Homo sapiens: one gene and its partner. The protein of the gene in region 2 purifies or fractionates together with the protein of the main gene of each other region. This does not show direct contact. Each region holds a gene or a part of one and is shown on either strand. Other genes may lie near its edges.

What was found.
Region 1: the proteins of OAS1 (region 2) and LUZP1 purify together in Homo sapiens (co-immunoprecipitation; one large-scale study listed by IntAct). This does not show direct contact.

The regions. Positions count from the first base shown.
Region 1 is NC_000001.11:23,092,357-23,095,856, forward strand, and holds part of LUZP1 (leucine zipper protein 1), read right to left. Parts: intron 2,025-3,500; 5' UTR 1,906-2,024; coding exon 1-1,905.
Region 2 is NC_000012.12:112,913,462-112,916,961, reverse strand, and holds part of OAS1 (2'-5'-oligoadenylate synthase 1), read right to left. Parts: intron 454-3,500; coding exon 224-453; intron 1-223.

The DNA.
Region 1 (3,500 bases), on a different chromosome or scaffold from region 2:
CATCACAACTGCTGCAGGTTGATTAACCCCTTCTTTATGTGAGGTTGAAAATCCCTGAAGGATGTTCTCTTGGCTTCTACAGCTATAAGGATACTTCGATAGAACAGGAGCCTTGGAATTCGGGCAACTGTTATCAGCCTCAAGGCCATTGGCAGCCTTTTTGCCTTTAGAGAGCCCTTCTGAGGAGGATCTTCGAGATGAGGCCAGGGCTCCAATGGCCTTAGAACAGCCAGAGTTTGCAGCCTGAGTTACTTGACTTCCGTTGCCAAGCACGTGTCCCCTCTTGCCAAAGACAGTCTCAGAGGAGGTGTCAGAAGCCTTGTCAGCTCTACCCAATGGGTCACTGGGAACAGATCCATGGGTGGTGTCACTAAACGTTCGTGTTGTCTTCTCCACTTTTCCCTTCAGTCCGCTCTCGGTGCCTGGCTTGGAAGTCCCCTTCCACGCTTTACTGTGCTCCTGAGCAGCCGGGGGGTAGCGACTCAGCACTGAGGGCTGCTCCCTAGACTTCTTCCCTTCGCTCTGGGAGGAGCCGGGTACAAACCGGTCTTCAGTTTTCTTTGTCTCCTGAGTCCCACTGTCTGTACTCACCCCCATGTGAGAAGCTTTTGCTGCCCTCCTGTTGGTGAAACTGGGAGAAGAAACCTGCCTGTTGCTCAGAGAATAGTTTTCATTGTTGAGAGCAAACTCCCTGTTCCGGAGTCGTTCCCGCTTATGCTGAGGAGACAGTTCCCGCGCTGTGTGCTTGGACACAGAAGCTTCACTTCCGTGGCCTCTAAACTTAGTCCTCTCATGTCTGCCTTTGCTGGACAGGAAAGCATCTTCCCCTTCTACCTCTCCATTTTCTAACTCTTTCTGTTTCTTGATTTGTAGCTTTATCTCCTCCAGTTGGCTGGCTAATAATTTGTTTTTATTTTGTTCACTTAGGTAATTATCCTGAAGGTCGTTATTTTTGGACTTCATTTTCTTAAGCTCTTCTTCCAACGATTCAAAGTGTTTGATTTGTGTCTTAAGTTTCTCAATCTCTTGGTTAAGGTCTTTGACTTTGTTGTCTTCCTGATTGCGGTTCTTTTCATTTTCTGATTTGTTTCTTGTTTCATTCTCTACCTGCTTTAGGTAGTCCAGACCACCCTTCCTTCTTGATTCTTTGGACGGCAGTGTGGAAGAGATGCCATCCTCAATCCGTAGGTCATTTCTTTCCAGATTAGAAGCATTCCTTGTATAATCTCGGTTCATTTTTTTGTTCTGCTCTAGTTTTTGAGTGAGTTCTTTTATCAATTTCTCATTTTCTTTCTCCTTTTCATTCAAGTATTTTCTCTCACTTACAAAGCTCAGAGTTAATGATTTCAGCTTTTCTAACTCTGACGCTAAACTCTGCTCAGTTTTATCCAGGCGGTCCTCAGAAGATTCTAGTTCTTTCACTTTGACTCTGAGCATTTCCAGCTCAGAGGAGATTTTCTTGGTCAGATTTCTCTCCTCATTCAGGCTCAGACACAGCTGGGTACAGTCATTCTTACTCCTGCTGAAGGCCTCTTCTAGCTTCTCTAATTCAGCCATTCGTTTCTGAAGCCGCTCAATCTCAGATTTCAGCTCCCGGGTGAGGTTTTCTTCCTCTTCAAGTTTCTCCTTCATCAGACGACACAGATCCTCTGCTCTCTTAATTTCCTCGTCTTTGCCTTCAATTCTCAGCACCCGCTGGCGCAGCACTTCAATCTCCGCCAACATGCTGGAGTTGCTACCTTCTGCCTGAATCACCTTGTCCTGGAGATCCAGGAGTTCATCCTCTGCTTTCTGGAGGTTTTTTGTGGCTTCCTCCAACTCATCAAGGCGGCGGCTTAGACTCTGTAGCTTAAACCGCAAGTGGCGGCTGGAGGCCGTCTCCTTGTAGCTTGTAAATTCGGCCATGTCTACTGCCAGCCAATGTGGGCTCCTAGAGGCATCCAATTCCACTCAAGGGGATGAGAAATGGTTACCTTTCTCTTGGCAACCACAATCTTCTTTGACAGCTGGAGACCATCATCAATCTACAAAAGGAAAGTAGAAAGCATGTCAGTCAGCAAATGTAAAACCTGCACGTTAGCTCCCAGTTATAGAAAAGTGCTCCTATCTGTTCCTGGTGCCTGGATCATAGCAGGGGCTCAAACCTGTTGAATGAATGACTTGAATAAACCTGCAAGAAAACACTGGTTCTTTATGGCCGATATTGAGTTGATACCTCATTTCGCCCTAATAAAGAATGTCACCAGTGGCAGCATGGCAAAAAGACATATAAGAAGCCTCAATTTTCATGGCAGGGTATAATAACATCATTACCATCTGCAACCTGCATAATCTCAGGAGAGTCATTAACAATGGAAACTAAGTCTCAGTTTTACTTAGTGGTAAAATGGGCATAATGATGTCTACCGTATTTCTCCCCAGTGTTGTTCTGAGATAATATGTGGAAGATCTTGGTAACAAAGCAATAAACAATCCTAAGATTTTTTTTTTTAAAGATTATCTCTTATGAGCTATTGTGACTTAAAAGTGATACAAATTAACCCTCTGCCTTGCTATAAATGGTGAGCTTCACAATATACTAAAACAATCTCTCTACACCCATTTTCAACATCTCTTCTCCCAAAAGTATATTTGTAAGTGGAATTCAGGTGTGAGTTGGCCCGACCCAGCCAACAGGCAGCTTCTACAAAACATATCCTTTTGCACTGTAAAAGAAATGCCCCAGATGTTAAGGTTGGTATGAAGACTGGTTTGTTTCTTTGAAAGCCATTTCACTGGGGATATATACCAAACATATAATAATACCCCAAGGAAATAGAGAAAGGGGAAGGTTTAGTTTTTTTATGTAATTTTCTCATTTTTAAAACAGGAGAATGGATTGATAAATGTATTTTAAACAGCTTTCATGAACAATAAGTCCTACGAAATTAAAAGGCAAACAACAGACTTCCATTTCCACCACTACAGCAAACCAGATAACCTGGAAAACCTCTAATACTATAAAACAGCTAAAAATACTGAATAAAATGTAACAATCACTTAAAATGTATAGTTGATCACATAGAAAGTAAGTGACATTCCAGCTAAAACCAGAGGAAAAGAAAACTAAATGAAAAATAATAGTAAGTTTAAACTACCACTGAGCTGTCCTTCTTAGGGTCTTGCCGATCTCCAGAACCAAGGAGTTTGGGTTCTAACAATCATGCAGGTATAAGAGGCAAGAGTTTGGGCTCAATAGAGGTGGTAAGTTGAAAATGAGACTCCAGTCCCCAATCTAAAGCAAGGATTATTGAAGAACTACAGCTCCAGGATAACTAGTGAAAAAAGTCACCTCCCTGATATAGGGAGATAAGAGGACCCGGGCTCTATTAGGGGTTAAAGGAGGATTATCCCTAGAGAATTTATAATCTTAGACCTGCTCTCACTTGAATTCAGAGTTCAAATTTATACCATCTGAGTGGTCTAGAACCTATCTGTCCTGAGAAACTAACATAAAATGG
Region 2 (3,500 bases):
TCAGTTTACTCACCTGTAAAATAATTGGCATAGTGCCTGCCTCACAGGGTTGGAGGTAGGTGTTTAAAACAGATGGCAGTAGTAAAATGCCCAGTACAATGATGGGCAACAGGAGATTCTCACTAAGTGGGGAGCCCTCCCACCTCCTCCATTTCCAAGGCACTGTACCTGTATCCAGGTGTTCATTTACATAGGGGAGCTAAGCCATGTGGGGATAGCATACCTGGGTTTCGTGAGCTGCCTTCTCAGGTACTTTTCAATAATGGGGTTTTTAAAGTCATAATACTTTGTCCAGTAGATGCAGAGTTGCTGGTAGTTTATGACTAATTCCAAGACCGTCCGAAATCCCTGGGCTGTGTTGAAATGTGTTTTCATGCTCCCTCGCTCCCAAGCATAGACCGTCAGGAGCTCCAGGGCATACTGAGGTGGCAGCTTCCCAAGCTTCTTCTTACACTGAGAAGAGGAAAAACAATCAGAAAAAAATTGGTTTGCTCAACTTTTGTGTAAACTACACTTCTCATGGGCCAAATCCAGCCTGCCACCTGTTTTTATAAAGTTTCCTTGGAACGAATCCAGGCTCATTCATTTATGTATAGTTTATGACTGCATTCATGCTACAAAGGCAGGGTTGAGTAGTTGCAACAGAGGCTGTGCAGTCCACAAAGTCTAAAATATTTACTATCTAGCCTTTTATTTTTTAAAAAAGTGTACTGGCCCCTTGTTAAGAGCGCTGGATTCTTATTGATGTGGGTTTGAATCCTGGCTTCACCATTGTCCAATTCTAAGTAGATGACTTAGACTCTCAGAGCCTCATGATTTTCATCTGCTAAGTGAGTGGTTGTAATAGCACCTATCTGATAAAGATACTACGAAAATTAACTGAGAAGAAGGACTTGTAATGTTCCTAAGAAATGCACAGAAGCAAATGAAATTCTTTCTGGAGGAATATACATAATCCAAAACCTCAAATTATTTCACACATAATTTTCAAATACAATGACCAGCACATATGTAACCAGGCACACAAGGAAACAAAACACTAAGAGTTATGACCAACAGAAAGAAGAGAAATAGTAATAAACCTACAAACTTTAAATGCTGAAAGACCGAACACAGACTTTAAAATAACTAGGAACTCTACAAGGAAAACTACAAAACATTGCTGAAAGAAAATCATAGATGACACAAACAAATGGAAACACATCCCATGCTCATGAATGGGTAGAATCAATATTGTGAAAATGACCATACTCCCAAAAACAATCTACAAATTCAATGCAATTCCCATCAAAATACCACCATCATTCTTCACAGAACTAGAAAAAACAATCCTAAAATTCATATGGCACCAAAAAAGAGCTCACATAGCCAAAGCAAGACTAAGTAAAAAGAACAAATCTGGAGGCATTACATTATCAGACTTCAAACTATACTGTAAGGCCATAGTCACCAAAACAACATGGTACTGGTATAAAAATAGTCACGTAGACAAATGGAACAGAATAGATAACCCAGAAATAAAGCCAAACACTTACAGCCAACTGATCTTTGACAAACCAAACAAAAACATAAAATGGGGAAAGGACACCCTATTCAACAAATGGTCCTAGGATAATTGGCAAGTTGCATGTAGAAGAATGAAACTGAATCCTTCTCTCTCCCCTTATACAAAATTCAACTCAAAATCGATCAAATACTTAAATCTAAGACCTGAAACCATAAAGATTCTAGAAGATAATATTGGAAAAACCCTCCTACACATTGGCTTAGGCAAAGACTTCATGACCAAGAACCCAAAAGCAAATGCAACAAAAACAAAGATAAATAGATGGGACTTAATTAAACTAAAAAGCTTCTGCAAAGCAAAAGAAATAATTAGCAGAGTTAACAGACAACCCACAGAATGGGAGAAAATCTTCACAATCTATACATCCAACTAATATCCAGAATCTACAAAGAACTCAAACGAATCAGCAAGAAAAAAAAAATCTCATCAAAAAGTGGGCTAAGGACATGAACAGAGAATTCTCAAATGAAGATATACAAATACCAACAAGCGGGGTGGGGGGAATTGGGGAGGGATAGCATTAGGAGATATACCTAATGCTAAATGACGGGTTAATGGGTGCAGCACACCAGCATGGCACATGTATACATATGTAACTAACCTGCACATTGTGCACATGTACCCTAAAACTTAAAGTATAATAATGAAAAAAAAAAAAAAAAAACAAATACCAACAAGCATATGGAAAAATGCTCAACATCCCTAATTATCAGGGAAATGCAAATCAAAACCACAATGTGATACCACCTCACTCCTGCAAGAATGGTCATAATAAAAAATCAAACAATAATAGATGTTGGTGTGGATGTGGTGAAAAGGGAACACTTTTACACCATTGGTGGGAATGTAAACTCATACAACCACTATGGAAAACAGTGTGGAGATTCCTTATAGAACTAAAAGTAGATCTACCATTTGATCCAGCAATCCCACTACTAGGTATCTACCCAGAGGAAAAGAAGTCATTATACAAAAAAGATACTTGCACACACATGTTTATAACAGCACAATTTGCAATTGCAAAAATATGGAACCAGCCCAAATGCCCATCAATCAATGAGTGGATAAAGAAAAATGTTATACACACACAAACACACCATGGAATACTACTCAACCATAAAAAGGAACAAAATAATGGCATTCACAGCAACCTGGATGGAATTGGATACTATTATTTTAATTAAATAACTCAGGAATGGAAAACCAAACATTGTATGTTCTCACTCATATGTGGGAGCTAAGCTATGAGGAAGCAAAGGCATAAGAATGATACATGGGACTTTGCGGACTGCGGGGAAAGGGTGGGGTGTGGCAAGGGTTAAAAGATTACACATTGGGTACAATGTACACTGTTTGGGTGATGGGTGCACCAAAATCACCACTAAAGAACTTATTCATGTAACCAAACACCACCTGTTCCCCCAAAAACCTATTGAAATAGAAAAATTAAAAATAAAAAAAAATAGTCCTCTCTCTGTGATCAGTGGTTTGAATGAGGACAGGAAAGGAGAGGTATCAGAGCCATATATGTATACACATGAATCTGTGTGTGCTCATGTCACAGAAAAGAAGTGTAAATAAAACATAAGATTAACAAATAATAAAAATTAAAAATAAAATAACTAGGAATATCATATTCACAGGATAAAATAAGAACTTTAAATAGTTAGCAGGGAATTAAAAGCCATAAGAAGTACCATGGCAGATACAAAAATATGAAATAGAAATTTTAGGATAAAAATGGCAACTGTAATTAATTACAGCAAATTAGATATAGCTAAAGAGAAAATTAGTTAATTGGAAGGTAGATTAGAAGGAACTATTCAGAATAAAGCATGGAAAAATAGACAAAAGGATGAAAAACACAGAAGAGAGTATAGAGATATGAAAGATAGAGCAGGGTCTAACATACATTTAATTGGAATTCTAGAAG